2 separate regions of the Homo sapiens genome follow, and region 2 is linked to region 1. Evidence: fine-mapped expression QTL. A gene starts in region 1. The other region holds a variant in brackets. All regions are shown on one strand. Distances are between the middles of the regions. Region 1 holds the start of ATG9B (autophagy related 9B). Region 2 overlaps NOS3 (nitric oxide synthase 3).

Evidence for each region. PIP is the estimated chance that this variant, and not a neighbour inherited with it, causes the effect.
Region 2: its variant is fine-mapped to the expression of ATG9B in whole blood (TOPMed, PIP above 0.99).

What each region holds. Positions count from the first base shown.
Region 1 is chr7:151,018,050-151,031,340 of GRCh38, reverse strand. ATG9B (autophagy related 9B) reads left to right here and starts at 6,847. Exons shown (of 14, transcript NM_001317056.2): 1 at 6,847-7,467; 2 at 7,611-7,654; 3 at 7,832-7,896; 4 at 8,135-8,296; 5 at 10,012-10,153; 6 at 11,967-12,721; 7 at 12,894-13,047; 8 at 13,291. The coding sequence starts at 6,918. It overlaps LOC124901777 (a long non-coding RNA gene), which reads left to right and starts at 3,083. Exons shown (of 3, transcript XR_007060593.1): 1 at 3,083-3,378; 2 at 4,329-4,534; 3 at 6,308-6,346. ABCB8 (ATP binding cassette subfamily B member 8) reads right to left here and starts at 2,891. Exons shown (of 16, transcript NM_007188.5): 1 at 2,731-2,891. The coding sequence starts at 2,825. RefSeq lists enhancers at 1,704-2,307, 2,559-2,868, 3,518-4,122, 4,123-4,726, 5,332-5,936 and 1 more and a silencer at 12,231-12,300.
Region 2 is chr7:150,999,724-151,007,723 of GRCh38, reverse strand. NOS3 (nitric oxide synthase 3) reads right to left here. Exons shown (of 27, transcript NM_000603.5): 10 at 7,125-7,226; 11 at 6,299-6,493; 12 at 6,107-6,180; 13 at 5,759-5,903; 14 at 5,420-5,524; 15 at 1,230-1,297; 16 at 719-835; 17 at 448-622. Among named protein-coding and RNA genes, the nearest start is that of NOS3, 13 kb to the right of the region's middle. RefSeq lists enhancers at 1-487, 488-1,068, 5,505-6,005, 5,283-6,482 and a silencer at 7,336-7,498. The variant G/C (reference allele first, on the strand shown) is at 4,329.

The sequences.
Region 1 (13,291 bases):
TTGTTTTCCACTGTGTTCTTGTTTCTATTAGAAAGATAGAGACGCTTACTCTCCTTCTGCCTTGTGTAACTGTCCAGTTTTCCCATTACGCCATGTGTTTCTGAAAGGCAGGAAATTATATCTTAGACAGCACTGGCAGAACTCCGGTACATAATAGATGTTCCGCAAATGTTTATGCTTGTTGAGCACATGCATGCCCTCATTAGAGGTGCAGGACAATCTGACCTAACTACTACAGGGTTTTGCAAATGTTTAGACTTACTGTGGCCTACAGCAAGAAACATATCTTACTTGCAACCCAGTACAATGAACACATACATGCCACACAAAATGGAAATGCTTCACAAAATAACATTTTCTCTAATTCTTAACATGTATTCTGATTCTTTTCTTTTCTTTTCAAGACAGGGTCTCACTCTTTTGCCCCGGCTGGAGAGCAGTGGTGCTATGCTGGCTGACTGCAACCTCCACCTCCCAGGTTCAAGCGATTCTCCTGCCTCAGCCTCTCGAGTAGCTGGGACTACAGGCGCCCACCACCATGCCTGGTTAATTTTTGTATTTTTAGTACAGACAGGGCTTCACCATGTTGGCTAGGCTGGTCTTGAACTCCTGACCTCAAGTGATCTGCCTGCCCCGGCCCCTCAAAGTGCTGGGATTACAGGCGTGAGCCAACGCACCCGGCTAAGTTTTGTATGGGGTTTCACCATGTTGGCCGGGCTGGTCTTGAACTCCTGACCTCAAGTGATCTGCCTGCCTTGGCCCCCCAAAGTGCTGGGATTACAGGTGTGAGCCACTGTGCCTGGCCTACATTTACTTTTATTTATTTATTTGAGACGGAGTCTTGCTCTGTCATGCTGGAGCGCAATGGCACAATCTCGGCTCACTGCAACCTCTGCCTCCCAGGTTTGAGCAATTCTCCTGCCTCAGCCTCCCGAGTAGCTGGGACTACAGGTGCGTGCAACCACGCCTGGCTAATTTTTGTATTTTTAGCAGAGACGGGGTTTCACCACGTTGGCCAGGCTGGTCTTAAACTTCTGACCTCAGGTGATCGCCTGCCTTGGCCTCCCAAAGTGCTGGGATTACAGGCGTGAGCCACCGTGCCCAGCCTATATTTACTTTTAAATGGTCCTGACCAACTAAATGCATTTCATAATCTATTGAAAAATACTGACTAATGAACACATATATACTTGAATATTATTTTATGTCTTTCCTTGGGTTTCTCTCTGGTTTAAATAACATCAACACCCTTACTCTTTCCTAAGAACTGTTTTTAAACCTTTCAATAATTTAGCATGGTCTTTTTCCAGCTTCTTGCATTGTCTCCAAACTAAGACTCTAAGAAAGTCTTGGTCGTTGCCAAGAGCATGTGGATTACTTCCCAGTACCAAGACTTCCAGCTCCAGCTCGATCCAGCTCTTGCCCTCCATCAGTCAGATGGGCTTTCCAAATGACACAACTCCACATCCACCTGCCCTTGGGAATCTTCTATCTGTTTGGCCCCCAAGTAATTCACTCTAGGATTAGAAAGGATGGCCAGGTGAGGTGGCTCATGCCTGTAATCCCAGCACTTTGGGAGGCCGAGGCAGGCAGATCACCCGAGGTCAGGAGTTGAAGACCAGTCTGCCCACCAATATGATGAAACCCCGTCTCTACTAAAAATACAAACATTAGCCGGGTGTGGTGCACATCTGTAATCCCAGCTACTTGGGTGGCTGAAGCATGAGAATTGCTTGAACCCAGGAGGCAGAGGTTGCAGTCAGTCGAGACCATGCCACTGCACTCCAGCCTGGGTGACAGAGCGAGACTCTGTCTCAAAAAAAAAAAAAAAAGAAAAGAAAAGAAAAGAAAAGAAAAGAAAAAAAAAGGAATCAGTCCCTTCTCATAAAGCATTTACATTCGAGTTGTAGTTTCAGGGTCCTTGTTTGTTTCCCATCTGTCTGTCTGTCTGTCTCTCTCTCTCGACCAACCTGTGTAGAGTGTTTTGCGAAAAACACACATGTACAAGTTACTAGATTGACTCTTTTTTTTTTTTTTCTGAGGCAGAGTCTCACTCTATCACCCGGGCTGGAGTGCAGTGGCCATGATCTCAGCTCACTGCAACCTCCGCCTCCCGGGTTGAAGCGATTCTCCTGCCCCAGCCTTCCAAGTAGTTGGAATTACAGGCGCGTGCCACCAATCACGGCAAATTTTTGTATTTTTTAGTAGAGACGAGGTTTTGCCATGTTGGCCAGGCTGGTCTCGAACTCCTGGCCTTCCAAAGTGCTGGGATTACAGGAGCGAGCCACCGCGCCCGGCCTATTAGATTGGCTCTTTATCCCTGCTGAACATCTCTAGTTCTTCTTCGACTCACTTTGAATCCTGGAAGCACCACTACATTAAATGTCTCTTCATACTAATAAGAATTTTCGTCCAAATCGCGCAATCACCTCCAGGGCCAGGAAAGGGGACCCCCGGTCGGGAGTGCGGACTGGGCGTGGTCACTGACCCCGAGCGTCCCCTCCTTCTGGCTGACACGCGGCTGCAGACGCAGGAGCCTCCTGCTGGCGACTGGAGTGTCACTATAAATAATTGAGGCCAACACCCGCGGAGTGACATTCCACCCCGGTAGGCCTGGCCTACAGCTCCCAGCAAGCCTCGCGCAAGCTCGTGGACTCCATCTCCCGGCGGGCCGGCACTGCCCTGCCGGGCGGTCAATGGCCCGCTCTGAGTAGGTTTTTCCGTTTTTACCTGACAGCTGAGAATGTCTGGAAGCGGAGGGGCGGTAGCAGCCTGCCTGGGAATGGGCCACCCCGAATCCCGACCCGAAATAAATGCACCAGCATGCTGACGCGGTAAAACAGGAGCCGCCGGCAATAGCAGTTTCACCCTCATCCCACTGAGGGCTCTATGTTGGCTCCCGCCCCCATCCCGACAACCCCCTCGCGCCTTGGCGGTGATTGGTGAAAAGACACATCAATCTCACTTCAAGCTGTGATTGGAGGATATGTTGTCAGCCCCCTCCTTTTGGAACTGTGATTGGAGGGAATCGCCTATCCGCCCGCCCCCTGCTCTGGGCGGAGCCGAGCAGGAAGTGGGCCTGGCTTTTGCCAGGTGCTCCTGTGGGCTCCGGGTGACGTCCAAAGGGTGTGGCCCGACTGGCCCTCCAAGCTATGGAGTATCCATAGTAACGCGTCAGCCGCCGACCTCGGGCCATTTTCCCAAGGCTCCAGGATCTCTAGATGTCCCGTCGTCTCAAGGGCGTGTAGAACGCGGGTTTTGGGGGAGGAATGAACAAAAATCGACTGGGAGTTTTTTCAAAACACGTACATATGCCCTGCCACCCACCCCGCTCTCCTAGGTGCGTCAGAACTGCTGGGACATCTGTCACGTGAAGGGGTGGGTTGCCCCTCCACACCTGTGGGCGTTTCTCATTAGGTGGAAGGAGAGACTTGGAAAAGAAAGAGACAGAGAGACAAAGTATAGAGAAAGAAAAATGGGCCCAGGAGACCGGAGTTCAGTTTACGGAAGATCCACGCCGGCACCAGCCTCTGAGTTCCCTTAGTATTTATTGATCATTATCGGGTATGGCAGGATAATAGGATAATAGTGGAGAGAAGGTCAGAAGGTAAACACGTGAACAAACGTCTCTGCATCGTAAACAAGGTAAAAAAAAAAATGCTGTGCTTTTGATGTGCATACACATAAACATCACAATGCCTTAAGAAGCAGTATTGCTGCCAGCCTGTCCCACCTCCAGCCCTAAGGCGGTTTTCCCCTATCTCAGTAGAGATAGGCTTTACACCGAGACATTTCCATTGCCCAGGGACGAGCAGGAGACAGAAGCCTTTCTTTTATCTCAACTGCAAAGAGGCATTCCTTCCTCTTTTACTAATCCTCCTCAGTACAGACCCTTTATGGGTGTCGGGCTGGGGGACGGTCAGGTCTTTCCCTTCCCACGAGGCCATATTTCATCACATGGGGAGAAACCTTGGACAATACCTAGCTTTCCTAGGCAGAGGTCCCTGCAGCCTTCCTCAGTGTTTTGTGTCTGGGTACTTGAGATTAGGGAGTGGTTTGAGATTAGGGAGTGGTGATGACTCTTAAGAAGCATGCTGCCTTCAAGAATTTGTTTAACAAAGCACACCGTGCACAGCCCTTAATCCATTTAACCCTGAGTTGACACAGCACATGTTTCAGGGAGCACAGGGTTGGGGGTAGGGTTACAGATCAACAGCATCTCAAGGCAGAAGAATTTTTCTTAGTACAGAACAAAATGGAGTCTCCTATGTCTACTTCTTTCTACACAGACACAGGAACAATCTGATCTCTCTTTCTTTTCCCCACAGTCACGTGTACTTGGGGAAGAACTCCCCCGGTGATTCTGACACTCTTGCCCTACGCCTCAGCCATTGAGAACTATTGGTATGGAGGGCCTGTAATTTATCAAGGCGCGGCCTCAGATCTGTCTGCCTCGCAGATACCTTCCTCACCCGGGTCAGAATGACTTGCCTCAGGCTCCTGCCAAAGAGTTTGCACCACTCGTTTCTTCCCTGTAATTACTTGTTTGCGTATTTGTCTCCCCACTGGGCTGCAGCTTCTTGGGTAGTGGCTCTGTTTTATTCATCTGTCCTCTTCCCTTCCAAATGCTTGGCAAGGAAAAGTGCCCTTTAAAATAAATCGACTTGAATTGGGAGTGGTGGTAGGGAGGCTGTCAATGAGAATGAATTCAGGGTGAAACTAGGTAGGACAATGTCCCAGGATTAGTTTGGGGTTGAGCTGGGGAGCTCTTGGTGTATGGGGGGGTCCTATTGTGACTATGGTGGAATAGCCACGATACTGAGTGACATTGGGCGAGTGAGGTGGGGGAGAGACTAGACAACACCCCACATAACCCATCTTGACAGATGTCTCAGAAAGATTATGGGAATTTCCTGGCCCCTCTGCAATGTGGGATTCCATTTTGCTACCTCTAGAAGGACAGGGTCTTGTTTTCATAGCTCTGCCTCCTACTCTGAGATAAAGGCATGCAAGACCTGAGCTACTACTACAATACCCCACACAGAAGGAGAAAATCAGGCACATCTGGATTCAAGTTTTGTGGGTGATTCCATGATTGCCTCCAGTGAACAATCTGGGAAGCACAGTGTCCATATCGCCATTTCAGGGGTACTGGCCCCAACATCAGCCCTTAGGCCTAAGCCCTAGAGACCTTGACACCTGGTGGCTGAGTCAGTATCTCAGTAATGGGCTTTAGAAGGAAACCTGGTGATTCAGGGCCTCAAGAATGGCGTTGGGCAAGCCACCAGACCAGCTGCCTGGGTCTCCTCCTCCTTGTTGAGGTGACAACAAGGAACTCAGTTCAGCTCCTCCCTGGGTATCCAAATTATCCTTCCAAGTCCCAGACTCACAGCTGTCCTCCCTTCTGATTCAGCCCTGATGCTTTTCAGGGGGTCCCAGAAGTGGGATCCGGACTTGAGAGAATGTCACAGTTGAAAATGATAAGGATGCAAACGGAATGGAACTTTCAGAGAACCCCAATTTTCTACTCTAAGTTCTCCAAACCAACTCTCAAATCCAAGATAGCTGCCTTTCCTTTCTTCACCTCCTCTTCTTAGTTTTCCCCAACTTGGCTGCAAAGTCAGCCTCCCCTCTTCTCTTCCTTAGCACCTCAGACCAATAAAACATGCAACCTTTTCTTATTCTTTTTAAAAAATTTATTTTTGACCAGGCGCAGTGGCTCACGCCTGTAATGCCAGCACTTTGGGAGGCCAAGGCGGGTGGATCACGAGGTCAGGAGTTCAAGACCAGCCTGGCCAACATGGTGAAACCCCATCTCTACTAAAAATACAAAAAATTAGCTGGGTGTGGTGGCACACACCTGTAGTCTCAGCTACTCAGGAGGCTGAAGCAGAAGAATCACTTGAACTTGGGAGGCGGAGGTTGCAGTGAGCCGAGATTGTGCCACTATACTCCAGTCTGGGTGACAGAGTGAGACTGCCTCAAAAAGAAAAAAAATTATTTTGTTTGTTTTTTAGATTTTGTAGAGATGGTGTTTCCCTAAGTTGCTCAGGCTGGTCTCGAACTCCTGGCCTCAAGTGATCCTCTCGCCCGGGCCTCCCAAAGTCCTGGGATTACGGGTGTAAGCCAACATGCCTGGCCCCTTTACTTCTTCTTTTCTGTTTTGGTCACAAAACATTTCTCTGTTGATCACTGTAGTGTGTGTGTGGAGGGAAGTGGGGGAGGTACACTCTTAAGAAATGAAATAGTTAACATCTTGGTCCTAAGATTTGTTGTAGAGATGGAGTCTTCTCATTCTGTTCCCCAGGCTGGTCTTGAACTCCTGGCCTCAAGCAATCCTCTTTCCTCGGCTTCCCAAAGTGCTGAGATTGATTACAAGTGTGAGGTACTGCGCCCTGCTACAATCCTTTAATAGGATGTTTTTGGGGGGGGTGGCAGGGGGCAGGATCTAGCTCACTGTAACCTATACTGTTCCAGTGTAACCTGCACCAAGCCATCCTCCCACCTCAGTCTCTTGAGTAGCTAGGAACACAAGCACACATCACCACACCTGGCTCTAACACGATTTTGCTTTTTGCTTTTGTCATTTTGGCTGCTGTTCTTTTTATCTTTCATTCATTCAAGGTCTGAAGATGGAGATAATAGGAATCTTCTCATCTCAATGTGCTCTTTGGCCCCTCCTCTTAAACTGATGCCCCTCTCAGGCCCTGAGGGATTTGGCCTCAGGTTGCCCTGGAAGGGGTGTGAGTGATCAGACAGGTGACTGAGAGCTGGGACGCCTGAGGCCTGCCTAGGCTGAGTCACCTAGTAATGTTGTTGTCATTGTTCCTGTTGAAGTCCCAGCTCAGTGTCACAGACCTTTGTGGAAGCAACAACAGCTCCCATCCTTCCAACCTTTCTGGAGAAGCCGTGGCCTGATGGTGAGCCGAATGGGCTGGGGGGGGAGAAGAAGGCGGCTGGGGCGGTGGGGAGATCTGGGGCCCGGATCGGTGCCCCTCCTCCCCATGCCACTGCCACCTCCTCCTCCTCCTTCATGCCGGGGACCTGGGGGAGGGAGGATCTCCATCTTCTCTCTGTCCCCTGCCCCTCATACAAGAAGCTCCCCCTCCTCATTTTCCCCTCCCACCGCAGGGCCCCCTTGCTCAGTGCTACAGGGGACAGGGGCTTCTCAGTCTTGCCACAGTGCTCTCCCTATCCCAGCCACCCCCCCAACACAGGCTCAACCTGCAATGACACCTGCCTCTGCATCTCCCTCCTGGGGATCCCACTCCACCCCACCCCTGGCCCCGGCAACCCCCACTCCCTCACAGCAGTGCCCCCAGGACTCTCCTGGGCTGCGGGTAGGCCCTTTGATCCCTGAACAGGATTATGAGCGGCTGGAGGACTGTGACCCTGAGGGGTCCCAAGACTCACCCATCCACGGGGAGGAGCAGCAACCCCTGCTTCATGTCCCTGAAGGGCTCCGAGGTATGTGTGTGGGTGTGGGTGGGAGAGGGTTAGTGGTGCCTGGGAGCTCCAGTACTTATCCCAGGCTGGGCCTCTGGCAGCGGGTTGAGAACGTGGAGAATTGATCACATGCCAGGGGCTGACACTCTCCCCTCTGTGCCCAGGCTCCTGGCATCACATCCAGAACCTGGACAGTTTCTTCACCAAGATATCCTTTGCGCTAGGCCTGCAGAGGTGGCATGGGAAGGTCCTCTTGGAGCTGGCACTGTTCTTGGCAGGGAGACTCCGTGAGGGCGTCATGGGTGGGAGACTTGTTGGGGCTGAGGGGAGGTGTCCTCAGGAGAGGCCCCCCGTGCCTCAGGCTTGTTCCTTGACACGCAGCCACATCTACAGCTACCACCAGCGGAATGGCTTTGCCTGCATCTTGCTGGAGGATGTCTTCCAGCTGGGGTGAGACGCTTAGCCCGGGCCCGGAACTCGGTCCCCTGGGCCCATGGCTTCCTTCTGTCATTTTGCTTCCTTAATTGTGCCAGCTGCTTCCATCCCATGCTTTCCCGAGCAGCCCAAGGGCTCAGCAGGGGCAGGGTCAGGGAGGATAACCATGGGCTGCTCTGGGGGCTGGGGCAGGAGCCCACCTGGCTGTCCCTGATCACTGCAGCATCCCGGCACCCCCCCTTCCTCCCGGCAGACAATTTATTTTCATTGTCACCTTCACAACCTTCCTCCTTCGATGCGTGGATTACAATGTTCTCTTTGCCAACCAACCAAGTAACCATACCAGACCTGGGCCGTTCCACAGCAAAGTGACCCTGTCAGATGCCATCCTACCCTCAGCCCAGTGTGCTGAGAGGTTAGTGACAACCTGGTGGGGCCCTGGGGGTGAAGCATGGGCAGTGGGTAGAGGAGTAGACGGGAGCCCCACTTTGTCCCGTCATCTAGATCAGCAGTTCTCAAAGCTTTTGGTCTTAGGACCAAAAATACACTTAATATACTTTAAGTTGTACTTAAGTGTATTAAGTTGTACTTAAAGTGTATTAAGTATATCTTTTTTTTTTTTTAAGACAGAGTTTCACTCTTGTTGCTCAGGCTGGAGTGCAATGGTGAGGTCTTGGCTCACTGCAACCTCCACCTCCCAGGTTCAAGCAATTCTCCTGCCTCAGCCTCCCCAGTAGCTGGGATTATAGGCGTGCACCACCACGTGTATTTTTAGTAGAGACAGGGTTTCACCATGTTGGCCAGGCTGGTCTGGAACTCCTGGCCTCAGGTGATCCACCCACTTTGGCCTCCCAAAGTGCTGGGATTACAGGTGTGAGCCACTGTGCCCGGCCTTTTAAGTGTATCTTAATTACAGTGCATTAAGTGTATCTTAATACACTTAAAATTGGTTGAGAATCCTGAAAAGCTTTTGTTTATGGGAGTCGTATCTATCCACATTTTACCTTATAAAAAATTAAAATTAGGCCGGGCATAGTGGTTCACACCTGTAATCCCAGCACTTTGGGAGGCTGAGGCAGGAGGATTGCTTGAAGCCAGAAGTTTGAGATCAGCCTGAGCAACAAAGTGAGACCACATCTCTATAAAAAATAAAAATTAGCTGGGCTTGGTGGTGCGTACCTGCAGTCCTAGCTAAGCCTAGTCAGGAGGCTAAGACAGTGACTGTCTCTGATCACTGCAGCATCCCTACACCCTCCTCCCTCCCAGCAGACGATTCATTTTCATTGTTGCCTTCACAACCTTCCTCCCTGAAGCATGGATTGCAATGTTCTCTTTGCCAACCAACCAAATAACTGTTCCAGACCTGGGCCGTTATTTGGCAGGGAGATAGGAGCTATGTTTCTACTGCTGCACTACAGCCTGGGTAACAGAGAGAGACCTTGTTTCAATAAAAAGGAAAAAAAAAAAAGAAGGAAATTGTAGCTGAGAACAACTTTAAAATGTAAGAGTGCGGCTGGGCGTGGTGGCTCACACCTGTAATCTCAGCACTTTGGGAGGCCGAGGCGGGCGGATCACAAGGTCAGGAGATCAAAACCATTCTGGCCAACATGGTGAAACCCTGTCTCTACTAAAATATACAAAAATTAGCCAGGTGTGGTGGCGGGCGCCTGTAGTCCCAGCTACCCTGGAGGCTGAGACAGGAGAATCATTTGAACCCGGGAGGTGGAGGTTGCAGTGAGCCAAGATTGCGCCACTGCACTCCAGCCTGGGCGACACAGCAAGACTCCATCTCAAAAAAAAAAAAAAAGAGTGTACAAGCACACATTTCATCAGCTGTCAGTGTGATGTGACATGTTCACGTGTCTTGTAGCCTCTGGAAAACTCCACTGTACTCTCAGAGTACAAGAATGAAAACATCAGAAAGCATTAGTATTATTTGGAAAAAGTTTGACTTTGCACATTTGTGAAGGCCACTTCAGCACCCACCCCCTGCCCCGGGCTCTACCTTGAGAGCTGCTGGTCTAGCTAGATCCCCCTCCTCATGATGGTTTTTCCTCACTCCCGAAGTCTGGTCTGCCTCTTTCTCAGGCGCCCACCTTTCTCCCCCACTGCCCGCCCAACCCCATACAGGATCCGCTCCAGCCCGCTGCTGGTCCTCCTCCTGGTCCTGGCTGCCGGCTTCTGGCTGGTCCAACTGCTTCGCTCAGTCTGCAACCTCTTCAGCTACTGGGACATCCAGGTGTTTTACAGGGAGGCCCTGCACATCCCCCCGGTGAGCTGGGTGGCTGTGTCTGTGCAGAGGGTGCCGTGAGAGGGTGGGCAGAGGAGAGGGGAAGAAGTGGGACTGTACAGGTGGAAGGGCCAACTGGAAAGAGGGCAGAAAGAGCGAGGTCTTATTGACACCTGCCCTAGGCCCAGAATAATGTCAGGAGGGGGCTACCACCACCTAGAGAGCATGGCCCTTACCCTAAGGGAGTTTAGTTTATTTAGATGGCTCATATAAGATGACATATAGTTACATGTTTGTGCTAAAAACATTGATTAGAGAAAAGAGAAAGGGCAGTTATCTGGCTTTTCAGAGCTGGAGGAATTTGGGTTGGGCTTCGGAAGGGCAGGACAGGAGGGGAGGGGAGCACATTCTAAGCCCCAGTGCAGGAAGGTGGGGAAAAGCCATGAGCTTTTGGAAGCTGCAGTGAGGAGATGGACCCATCAGCCTAAAACAGAGCCTTCAAAGCCATCCCCCGCATTGCAGGAAGCCACTGCATTGGCCTGTCACTGTCCACTGCTTATGCTCTGCCCTTTGTTTCCTCACCATCTTGAGTCTGCTCCTCCCTCCTCTGTATCTAAGTTCTTTCTTTGAGGCACAGCTTGAAAGTAGCCTTCTGCAGCTTGCTTCCCTTGCTCCCCTGGGAGGTCCGGAGCCCTCTGCACAGCCTTTATGTGCAGCAAGGGGAGAGGTCTTAGAAGGCCCCTGAGCAGAGGAGAGGGAGGAGGCCGGGGAAGCAGAGGTGGTGAGAGCGGAAGCTGGACCTCGGATTGGCTCTGGCGGGAGACTGCTCACCCGTCTCGTTCTCCTCCTCCCTTCTTTCCCCTCCTCCCCTGTTCCTTCCAGGGGAAGGGAAGGGAAGACACTGGGATGTACTGGAGAGGCCAGCCTGGGGGACTTGACTAACCTGGACTGGGAAAGCTGAGTGAAACTGGGCTGAAGTGAGGTTTGCAGCCTTCAAATGAGATCTGACAGTGCCCCACTGCCAGATGTGGACATAGCCCAGGTCCTGGGAAGGCTTCTGGTGACAGAGCCGAAGATGGCCTGGAGTCGGGTGGGGCTGGGAGTGTAAAGCATGCCCAGGCAGAAGGTGGGGAGGATTCTGTTCCAGAGTTGGTGGGTGCACTAGAAATGGGAAGGAGAGATTCTCCCACGAACTGCCAGACATTCTGGTTTTTTGTTTTTTTGTTTGTTTTGTTTCTTTTGAGACAGGGTCTGGGTCTTTCACCCAGGCTGGAGTGCAGTGCTGTGATATTGGCTCACTGCAGCCTCTGCTCCCCAGTAGCTGCAACCACAGGTGCACACCACCACGCCCTGCTATTTTTTGTATTTTTAGTAGAGACAGTGTCTCACCATGTTGCCCAGGCTGGTCTCGAGCTCCTAAGCTCAGACGATCTGCCTGCCTCAGCCTCCCAAAGTGCTGGGATTACAGGTGTGAGCCACCGCCCCTGGCCAGCCAGTCTGTTTTGTGTGTACAACTGAGGGGGCCTCAGGCCCTTAAGGAGCTGAGAAGCCAGGTCCAGCACCTGGAGGCGTCCCCAGGAAGTGCATGACTACTGGCCACATGAATGGCAGGGATGATGAACAGGGCAGTTTAGAAGAGGATGAAGGAAGTAGGGCGCGCCCTTGTTAGTGACAGGGTTAAGGGAGGGCAGAAAGAGAAAGGTGGGAGAGGGGGACGATGTAGCTTGGTCATGGCGAGTTTGTGATCGCAAACTCAGTTTGCGGGTTTTCAGGCCGCACACTTAGGGGTGTGGAGCTTGAGCATCACTGTGGAGAGGAATGGGGGGTCGCTGGCTCTCATCAGTGCCCCTTTCAGGAGGAGCTGAGCTCGGTTCCCTGGGCAGAGGTGCAGTCCCGCCTCTTGGCACTGCAGCGGAGCGGGGGCCTGTGCGTGCAGCCGCGGCCCCTGACGGAGCTGGACATCCACCACCGCATCCTGCGCTACACCAACTACCAGGTGGCGCTGGCCAACAAAGGCCTGCTGCCGGCCCGCTGCCCGCTGCCCTGGGGAGGCAGTGCGGCTTTCCTCAGCCGCGGCCTGGCGCTCAATGTCGACCTGCTGCTCTTCCGCGGTCCCTTCTCGCTCTTCCGCGGGGGCTGGGAGCTGCCGCACGCCTACAAGCGCAGCGACCAGCGGGGCGCCCTAGCAGCGCGCTGGGGGCGCACAGTGCTGCTGCTGGCCGCCCTGAACCTGGCGCTGAGCCCGCTGGTGCTGGCCTGGCAGGTTCTGCACGTCTTCTATAGCCACGTGGAGCTGCTGCGGCGCGAGCCTGGCGCGCTGGGGGCGCGCGGCTGGTCCCGCCTGGCGCGCTTGCAGCTGCGCCACTTCAACGAGCTGCCGCACGAGCTGCGCGCGCGCCTGGCCCGCGCCTACCGCCCCGCCGCCGCCTTCCTGCGCACCGCTGCGCCCCCCGCGCCCCTGCGCACGCTGCTGGCCCGCCAGCTCGTTTTCTTCGCGGGTGCACTCTTCGCCGCGCTGCTTGTGCTCACCGTCTACGACGAGGACGTGCTAGCCGTGGAGCACGTGCTCACCGCCATGACCGCGCTCGGGGTCACCGCCACCGTCGCCAGGTGCGACGGCAGATGCCCGGGGTGGTGGTGTGTGTTGGTTTCTCTGATCTGGGGCCATGTGAGGTTCCCCCCGAATCCTTACCTCTCCCACCACTGGGGCCCTCTAGCCCTACATCCCACCGCGCGTCCTCCTAATCGCAGGCCCCTTCCCCCCACGGATCCCGCCTTTCAGGTCTTTCATTCCGGAAGAGCAGTGCCAGGGTCGTGCGCCGCAGCTCCTGCTGCAGACAGCCCTGGCCCACATGCACTACCTCCCGGAGGAGCCCGGCCCCGGCGGCAGGGACCGCGCCTACCGGCAGATGGCGCAGCTGCTGCAGTACCGAGCGGTGAGGGTGGGCGCGACGGCGGGCTGAGGAGGAAGTTGTGGGGTCTGTCTGCGCGGAGGGTCTGTCTGCGCGGAGGGTCTGTCTGGGAGAGGGCATGAGACAAACGGACTATACCAGGAGTCTAGGGAGTGACTGGGTGGGGAGGCTTCTTGCCCTGGCGAGGGTCGCTGGGGACTGCTTGGTCCTGATAACGCGCGTGGGCCCCTCAGCGACCCCTGCTCAGCCTCACCGCTGCTTCCCCAGG
Region 2 (8,000 bases), 21 kb after region 1:
GCCCCAGGCTGTCTGGCCTCTGGCTTCCTGTGGCTTCTGTGCTGGCCTCAGCTTCAGCCCTTGCCTCTGTCTGACCTTCTCTCTGTCCCTTCCTTCTCCCTCCATCCTGCCCATCCTGGGTGGGGTCCCCTGCCCTGCCCTGCACCCCCTCCCTTTGTGCGCCCACTTGTGAGGCCCAGCCTGTGCCTGGCTGAAGCTCCCTCCTGCCAGGGCCCTGCCTGCTCTCTTTCGGCTGCACTTCTGCCTGGGCTAGGCACCCCTGTGGTCGGCAGGGCCATGTCATCCTCTGCCCCTGACCCAGAAGAGCTGGCTATGCCATGGAGAGATGAGGGTGGATTTTGGAAGGAACAGGAAGGGACCAAAGAACCAAACAGAATCAGGGCAGAGTGAGGCAGGAGGAGGCATCCCAGGGGGCAGGAGTCAGAGCAGGGGCTGGGCTGGGCTCACCTGGAAGGCAGCCTGGGCCCAGCCTCGGAAGGCCTCCTCCTGGCCGCACAGCTCGTCGCCCTGGCCCAGCTGCAGCAGCCGCTCCCCGCCCAGTTCCTCCAGCCGTGTGTCCACGGCACGAGCAAAGGCGCAGAAGTGGGGGTATGCCCGGGAGCCGAGCCCGAACACACAGAACCTGGGGTGCAGGGGTCGTCAGTGGAGCTCCCTTTGCAGGCCACGTTTGCCCAGGCAGCTTGCCCACCCGTTGCACCCCTCTTGGTGAGGCCCTGACCTGAGGGTGCCCAGGGCCCCTGCACTGTCTGTGTTACTGGACTCCTTCCTCTTCCGCCGCCAAGAGGACACCAGTGGGTCTGAGCAGGAGATGCTGTTGAAGCGGATCTTATAACTCCTGGCAAGAGAGGACAAAGACAAGGTTGTCACAGGGCCCTGGGGATACAGGCTAGGCCCAGCCCCAGCCCCAGGGACGGCTTCAGGGTCTCTGCCTCTGGGACAGGAAAGGCCCTGCCCTTGGGAGGGGCTGAGGGCCAGCATCCCTGGGGTTCCGAGCCTGGGGCCCTGACACACCACACCCCCATCTCTGAAGACCTCAGGACTGTCCCGGCTCTCAGAAGCAGGCAGGTCTGGACTGCCATTGCAGCCTGGAATGGAGGGCATCCTGGAGCCCTGGCTTTTGGTGGGAAAACGACTTGAGGCACAGAGGGAGAGCTTTTCAGACCCCCTTTCTGTTTGTGTCTCCAAATGCATCAGCTCCCCCAGCTCCCCCAAACTCTCACCCAACTCACTTGTGCTGTTCCGGCCGAGGGGAGCTGTTGTAGGGGCCGGACATCTCCATCAGGGCAGCTGCAAAGCTCTGGCGAGGGGAGTGTTTGCATCAGGGTTAGTTTTGTTTCATTTCAAACTACATAGAAGTTTAAAACTGTACCAGCTGATCCTCATTATTATTGATTTGTAACTTAATTTTTATTTGTTTTGAAAATTTCAAAAGCGATCTGATGTTTTTGAAAAATGACATTACAGAAATGTGTAAAGTGATAAGACAAAGACCACCCCATCTTCCCTCCGGGCATATGCGCCATTGACAGGTGTTAACCTTCCAGCCCTTTTTCCTTGAACTTACGTGCATGTGCATATTTATAGTTTTTTTTTAAGTAAAAGTGGTACCATACTGTACTTCCTTGGTTTTAATCAATAATTTATTGCAGACATCCCTCCAGGTCAATACAACAATATTGACGTAAGTAGTAGTATTGTTTTTAGATATGGGTCTTGCTCTGTCGCCCAGGTTGGGGTGCAGTGGCTCCATCATCATTCACTGTAACCTCAGACTCCTGGGCTTAAGGGATTTTTCTGCCTTCCTAGTAGCTAGATCTATAGGTGCGTGCCACCACTCTTGGTTAATTTTTAAATTTTCTGAAGAGATGGAGTCTCGCTGTGTTGTTCAGTCTGGCCTTGAACTCCTGGGCTCAAGCGATCCTCCGGCCTGGACTTTCCAAAACATGACCTCAGTCTTTTTAGTGGCTACATTGTACTTCACTGAGACTGAAGGGCAGCTCGGTGGTCTGGGAACAGGTGCTCTCTCAAACGCCCTTGTACGTGTGCCTTGCTCCCACTTTTAAATGCTTCAGCTGGGTAATCCTTAGAAGTGGAGTTGCTGAATCCCCACTTGTTGGGGCAGGCAGATCGTCCTCGCAGCTGCAGGGGAGGGCACAGCTCTTTCCTCACTCCTGGCTAACAACGGCTAGAGCAAAATCTTTCCTGTTTTAGTGGATTTCATGGGTGGACAAACTCTCAGTTCCTTCAGCAGTGTCCTGGTCACTAGCAGACATTGTGCAGGTTGCCCTCCTCAGAAGACCATGGCCTTGTTTGTGCTGCCATGAAGAAGTGGCATCAAGCGGACCTCCCAGGGGGAAGGAAGCTGGAAGGAACTGCATCTGGTGCTCAACTGCAGATGCCTCTGGGTGCTGGTTCCCAAGTGCGCCAGAGTTAGCAAGAACGATTTGAATTTCATTTTTGAATGTTTTGTCAACGTGCAACACAAGTCCAGAGGTGCACACATGTTGTAAATGTACAACTCTGTAAGTTTTCACAAACTGAACACACCTGTGCAACCAGCATCCCATCGAGAAACATTACCCGTGGCTGGGCGTGGTGGCTCACGCCTGTAATCCCAGCACTTTGGGAGGCTGAGGTCAGGGATTCAAGACCAGCCTGGCCAACATGGTGAAACCGCGTCTCTACTAAAAACACAAAAATTAGCTGGCCATGGTGGCGGGCACCTGTAATCCCAGCTACTCGGGAGGCTGAGGCAGGAGAATCGCTTGAACCGGGGAGGCGGAGGTTGCAGTGAGCCGAGATCACGCCATTGCACTCCAGCCTGGGCAACAGAGTGAGACTCCAGCTCAAAAACAAAAACAAACAAACAAACAAACAAACAAACATTACCCGCATCCTAGAAGCCAACTTCGTGCCTTCTTCCTGTCACTGCCACCCCCATCCCAGTGACTAACTCCTCTCCTAATTTCTAACTCCGTGGATTAGTTCTGCCTGTTTCTGAACTTTATATAAAGTGAACCCTGTAGTACAGTATGTATTCTTTGGTCTGGCTTTTTCTTCTCTTCACATTTTTTGAGATTCACCTGCACTGTTGTGTGTGGTTGTGTTTCGTTCACACTTAGTGCGATATGGCACTTGAATATACCACAATTTATCAGTATTTGTCGATGGTCATTTGAATTGTTTCCAGTGTGGGGTATTACAAACAAATTTGCTATAAATATTCCTTATTTTTAGTGAATATACCCCATTTTCTGTGAGCTGTATTCCTAGATTTGTTAAAAATTTGGGATAAAATTAACATACATTGAACTGCACAGATGTTAAAGGGCAGTTTAATTTGCTTTGCTGTTTGACAGTTTTATTTTATTTATTTGTATTTTATTTTAAGTAGAATTCTTGCTCTGTCACCCAGGCTGGAGTGCAGTGGCGTGATCTCGGCTCACTGCAACCTCCACCTCCCAGGTTCAAGCAATTCTCCCGCCTAGCCTCCTGAGTAGCTAGGACTATAGGCGTGCGCCACCATGCCCAGCTAATTTTTGTATTTTTAGTAGAGACAGGGTTTTGCCATGTTGGCCAGGCTGGTCTTGAGCTTCTGACCTCAAGTGATCCACCCACCTGGGCCTCCCAAAGTGCTGGGATCACAGGCGTGAGCCACCGCGCCTGGCCTGGCAGTTTTATTTTTTAAAAAAGTGAAAGATTAAACATGCATCTACCCTATGACCTACCAATTCTACTCCTAGGTATTTACCCAAGAGAAATAAAAACATAAGCCCACAAAAGCCGGGTACAAGAATGTTCATAACAGGTTTATTCATAATAGCCCCGACCTGGAAACAGCCCAAGTGTCACCAACAAGAGAATGGGTAAACAAACTGGGGATATTCACACAATGAACGGCACTCAGCAGCAGAATGAGTGAAATACTGAGTCACGCAGCAACACGAGTGCGCCTCAAAAACAGCCTCAGCAGGAGACGCCGCAACACTGCGTGCTTCCATCTAGGTGCCGTTCTAGAGCAGGCGAAACTATTCTGTGGTGACAGACACTTCTGGCAGGGAGACAGACTGGGAAGGGATTCACGTGAGGAACTGATGAGGGAACTTTCCAGGGTGGTGAAAATGTGCTATGCCTTGTGAAGGCTGTAGGTTATATGGGTGTCTATACACCTTTATGCTAAAAAAAAGTCAATTGCTGGTGCTATTTTTCTTGAAAAGGTAGGTCAGAATGAGGGCTGAAACGGACACTAAGGCAGCAAAAAGGGTTTCACGAGATTCCAACTTGCTTAAGATACTGAGGGCCAGGTGCAGTGGCTCACGTCTATAATC[G/C]CAGCACTTTGGGAGGCCGAGGCAGGTGGATTGCTTGAACCCAGGAGTTAGAGACCAGCCTGGGCAACATGGCGAAACCCCATCTCTATAAAAAATACAAAAATTAGCTAGGCATCATGGCATGCGCCTGTAGTCCCAACTACTTGGGAGGTTGAAGTGGGAGGATTGCTTGAGTCTAGGAGGTTGAGGCTGCAGTGAGCCGTGATTGTACTACTGCACTCCAGCCTGGGCCACAAAGTGAGACCCTGTCTCAAAGGAAAAAAGAAAAAAGAGTACTGAGGAAGTACTTAGTGCTAATAAGGCCTTTAACACCTAGAAGCTGGAGCAGGTAAGACTCAGAAATGAGCCTAGCCTGGGGCACCTCAGAGATACCTAAGCTTGCAAGAGAAGGAATTCAATGATGGTACTCTAGCTTTGTGTTTCTTTTTAAAAAGTGAAGTTATTTAATCTATGTTGGCATCTAAACAGCGCTCAATTTCTTCTTTTGAAAAAGGAGCCTGCGGCAGGAGGATCTCTTGAGGCTAGGAGTTCAAGGCCAGCCTGGGCAACGTAAATAGGTTCTCAAAATAAATAAAACAAATAAAATAAAATGCTGGAATAGTGTTGCACATGTTGTAAATGTACAGCTCTGTGGATTTTTACAAACTGAACACACCTGTGTAACCAGTATCCCATTAAGAAACATTACCCGCATCCTAGAAGCCGCCCTCAGTGACGTATCCCTGTTTTTCTTGTCAGTGCCCGAGCACAGTCTAACCTCTTGGTCAGCCAGGATGTGCCTTCCTTGTATTAAAAACTTGCACTGATAATGGAAATGACTTGGGGACGCGCAGTTAAGCAAATGTGCTTGCAGGGAGGCAGCCACATGGGTGGGCTGGGAGCGTAGCTTGTGTGGGGTTTCAGGCTCCAGGGGTCTCTTAGCATCTCCCTTTCCATCCTGGCGTGTGTGTGTGTGTGTGTGTGTGTGTGTGTGTGTGTGTGTGTGTGTGTGTGTGTGTGTGTGTGTGTGTGTTGGGCAGAGGTTCCTGCCCAGTCACTCCAATTCTGAGTCTCTCCTCATTCCCAGCAGCCCCTTTCCTGGAAGTTCTCACCTCTCCATTCTCCGGGGGATCCCCATTCCCAAATGTGCTGGTTACCACCAGCACCAGCGTCTCGTGTTCGAGGGACACCACGTCATACTCATCCATACACAGGACCTGTGGGTGGGAAGACAGATGTCCTGGGTGCTGTGGCCCCCGGAGGCCCTGCCCTCCTCACTCTGGCCTCCCTGGCAGTGCAAGATTCAGGCCCCAACTTGATCTCTGAACACCTGTGGTTCCGGGTTCCTCATGAGTCCTGACTTGTAACACTTCCTGTCCTCCAGGGCACCCCTGAAGATGCTGATAGAGCCCCCTCTTTCTAGCTCCCTGCTCCCCTGGGCTCAGCCCTACCCGGGGATCAAAAGCCTTCCGGAAGAGTCTCCCCAGCTGCTGTGCGTAGCTCTGGGCCCGGCCGGTCTCGGAGCCATACAGGATTGTCGCCTTCACTCGCTTCGCCATCACCGTGCCCATGAGCGAGGCGGAGATCTTCACGGCGCTGCGGGAGAGGAAGGTGTGAGGGTGTCCTGGGTGCACAGAGGCAGGGCCTCCCCAGGCAAGGGTCCAACCCCCTCACAACAGGGTTTTGGGATACTGAGTGGTAGGCCCAGAACACTGCTGGGGCAGGGTCCCCCAGGGTGTGTGGGGGAGAGTGGGGCCCCCAGGGTGTGTGTGGGAGAGCGGGGCTCCCAGGGGACCCACTTGGCCACTTCTTTAAAGGTCTTCTTCCTGGTGATGCCGGTGCCCTTGGCGGCACTCCCCTTCCAGGGGTCTGGCTGCAGAGAGATGATGGGGTTGGGAGGGGAGGTAAAGAAAAGGAAAGGTTAGAGGTCCCCAGGGGCTGCTTAGAATTAGAGCTGGGCCCAGGCTGGCAGAGCCAGTTAGGGTGGGCACCTGGTAGCGGAAGGCCGGGGACAGGAAATAGTTGACCATCTCCTGATGGAAAACAGGAGTGAGGCTGCCCGAGATGGGGGGCACGATCCAGGCCCAGTCTGCAGGGCAGCCCCCCCTGGCCTTCTGCTCATTCTCCAGGTGCTTCATGAAAGAGGCCGTGGCGGCGTGGTGGTCCACGATGGTGACTTTGGCTAGCTGGAAGGGAGAGAGAGGGGGAGAGGCTCAAACCAGACCCACAGACCTCGCCCATTCTTCCTCCACCACTCCGGTCACCCCAAACCACATGTGCCCTCGATTACCCCATATCTAACACACCCTGTGTCCCCTCAAACCACAATGTCACCCTCACCCCAAACCACATCATGCATGGTCATGCTGCAGGTTCAACATGCAACAAGCAGCTCTAATCTCCAGCATCTGCATGCCTGGTCCCCAAACCAAATAGCCCACAGAAATTCTCAGCAGGCCCCGGCTTCCTCAAACTACGACTCCTGGTGTGCCCTTGATCCTGGTATTTGTTTCCAGGATCCAGCGGGTCCCACAAACTGCAATACCCAATATGCCCTGAGAATCAGCATGACTGGGCATGCAGTAAACAGCAAGGTCCCTGGCACACAGTAAGCCACCAGATGACAGCGCCTGGAATAGTACCTGCCCTGTCCCCGAACCGCAGGCCAGTGTGCGCCATGGCACTGGGACTACGGAACTTCTTCTGCCTGTCCAAATCCTGCCCTAGTTTCTAAATGGCTGCCTCTCCTCCATCCCCCGCCCCTGCTGCCCCCGTATGCAAACCCTTTGCCTTCCTGGCCAGTCTGGGCCTCTGCACCTGGTAACTGTGCAGCACGGCCACGTTGATTTCCACTGCTGCCTTGTCTTTCCACAGGGACGAGGTGGTCCGGGTATCCAGGTCCATGCAGACAGCCACATCCTGGGGCAGAAGGGTGTGTGGCATCGGTAGGGACAGAGGTGATCACGGGGGTGGGGTGGGGAGACTATCTCTGTTTCCCGTACATGGCTGGAAGGAGTGAGGTGAGTGGTGTCCATTGGGAGGCCTGGCTGCCTAGGGGGCTGGTTCAGGTTTTTGCCTGCGAAGGCACCTCAGAGCAGAGAGGGACTTTGGGCCAGTCGCTCCTCAGCTCCAGGCTTTAATTTCTCATCTCTAAAATGGGTCTTAACCTTTGCCGAGTCAAGGTCCCCTTTGAGAATCTGATGAAAGCTCTAGAGCTATGGGTCCTATGCCTGAAAGAACAACTACATGTTCACACCCATCCCCATGCCCCCCTCACCCACCCACTCACACCCACACCCACCCACAAACCCACACACTCACACCCACCCACCCCCACAAACCCACAATTTCACACTCACCGCCTACACACATCCACACTCACACCCACATACCTACACTCTCACACTCGCCCCTACACACCCCACAAACCCACACTCGCCTACCCCTACAAGCCCACACACACCCCCTACACACCCCACAAACCCACACTCACCTACCCCTACAAACTCACACACACTCACCCCTACACACCCCACAAACCCACACTCGCCTACCCCTACAAACTCACACACACTCACCCCTACACACCCCACAAACCCACACTCGCCTACCCCTACAAACCCACACACACTCACCCCTACACACCCCACAAACCCACAGTCACCTACCCCCACAAACCCACAGTCTCACAGT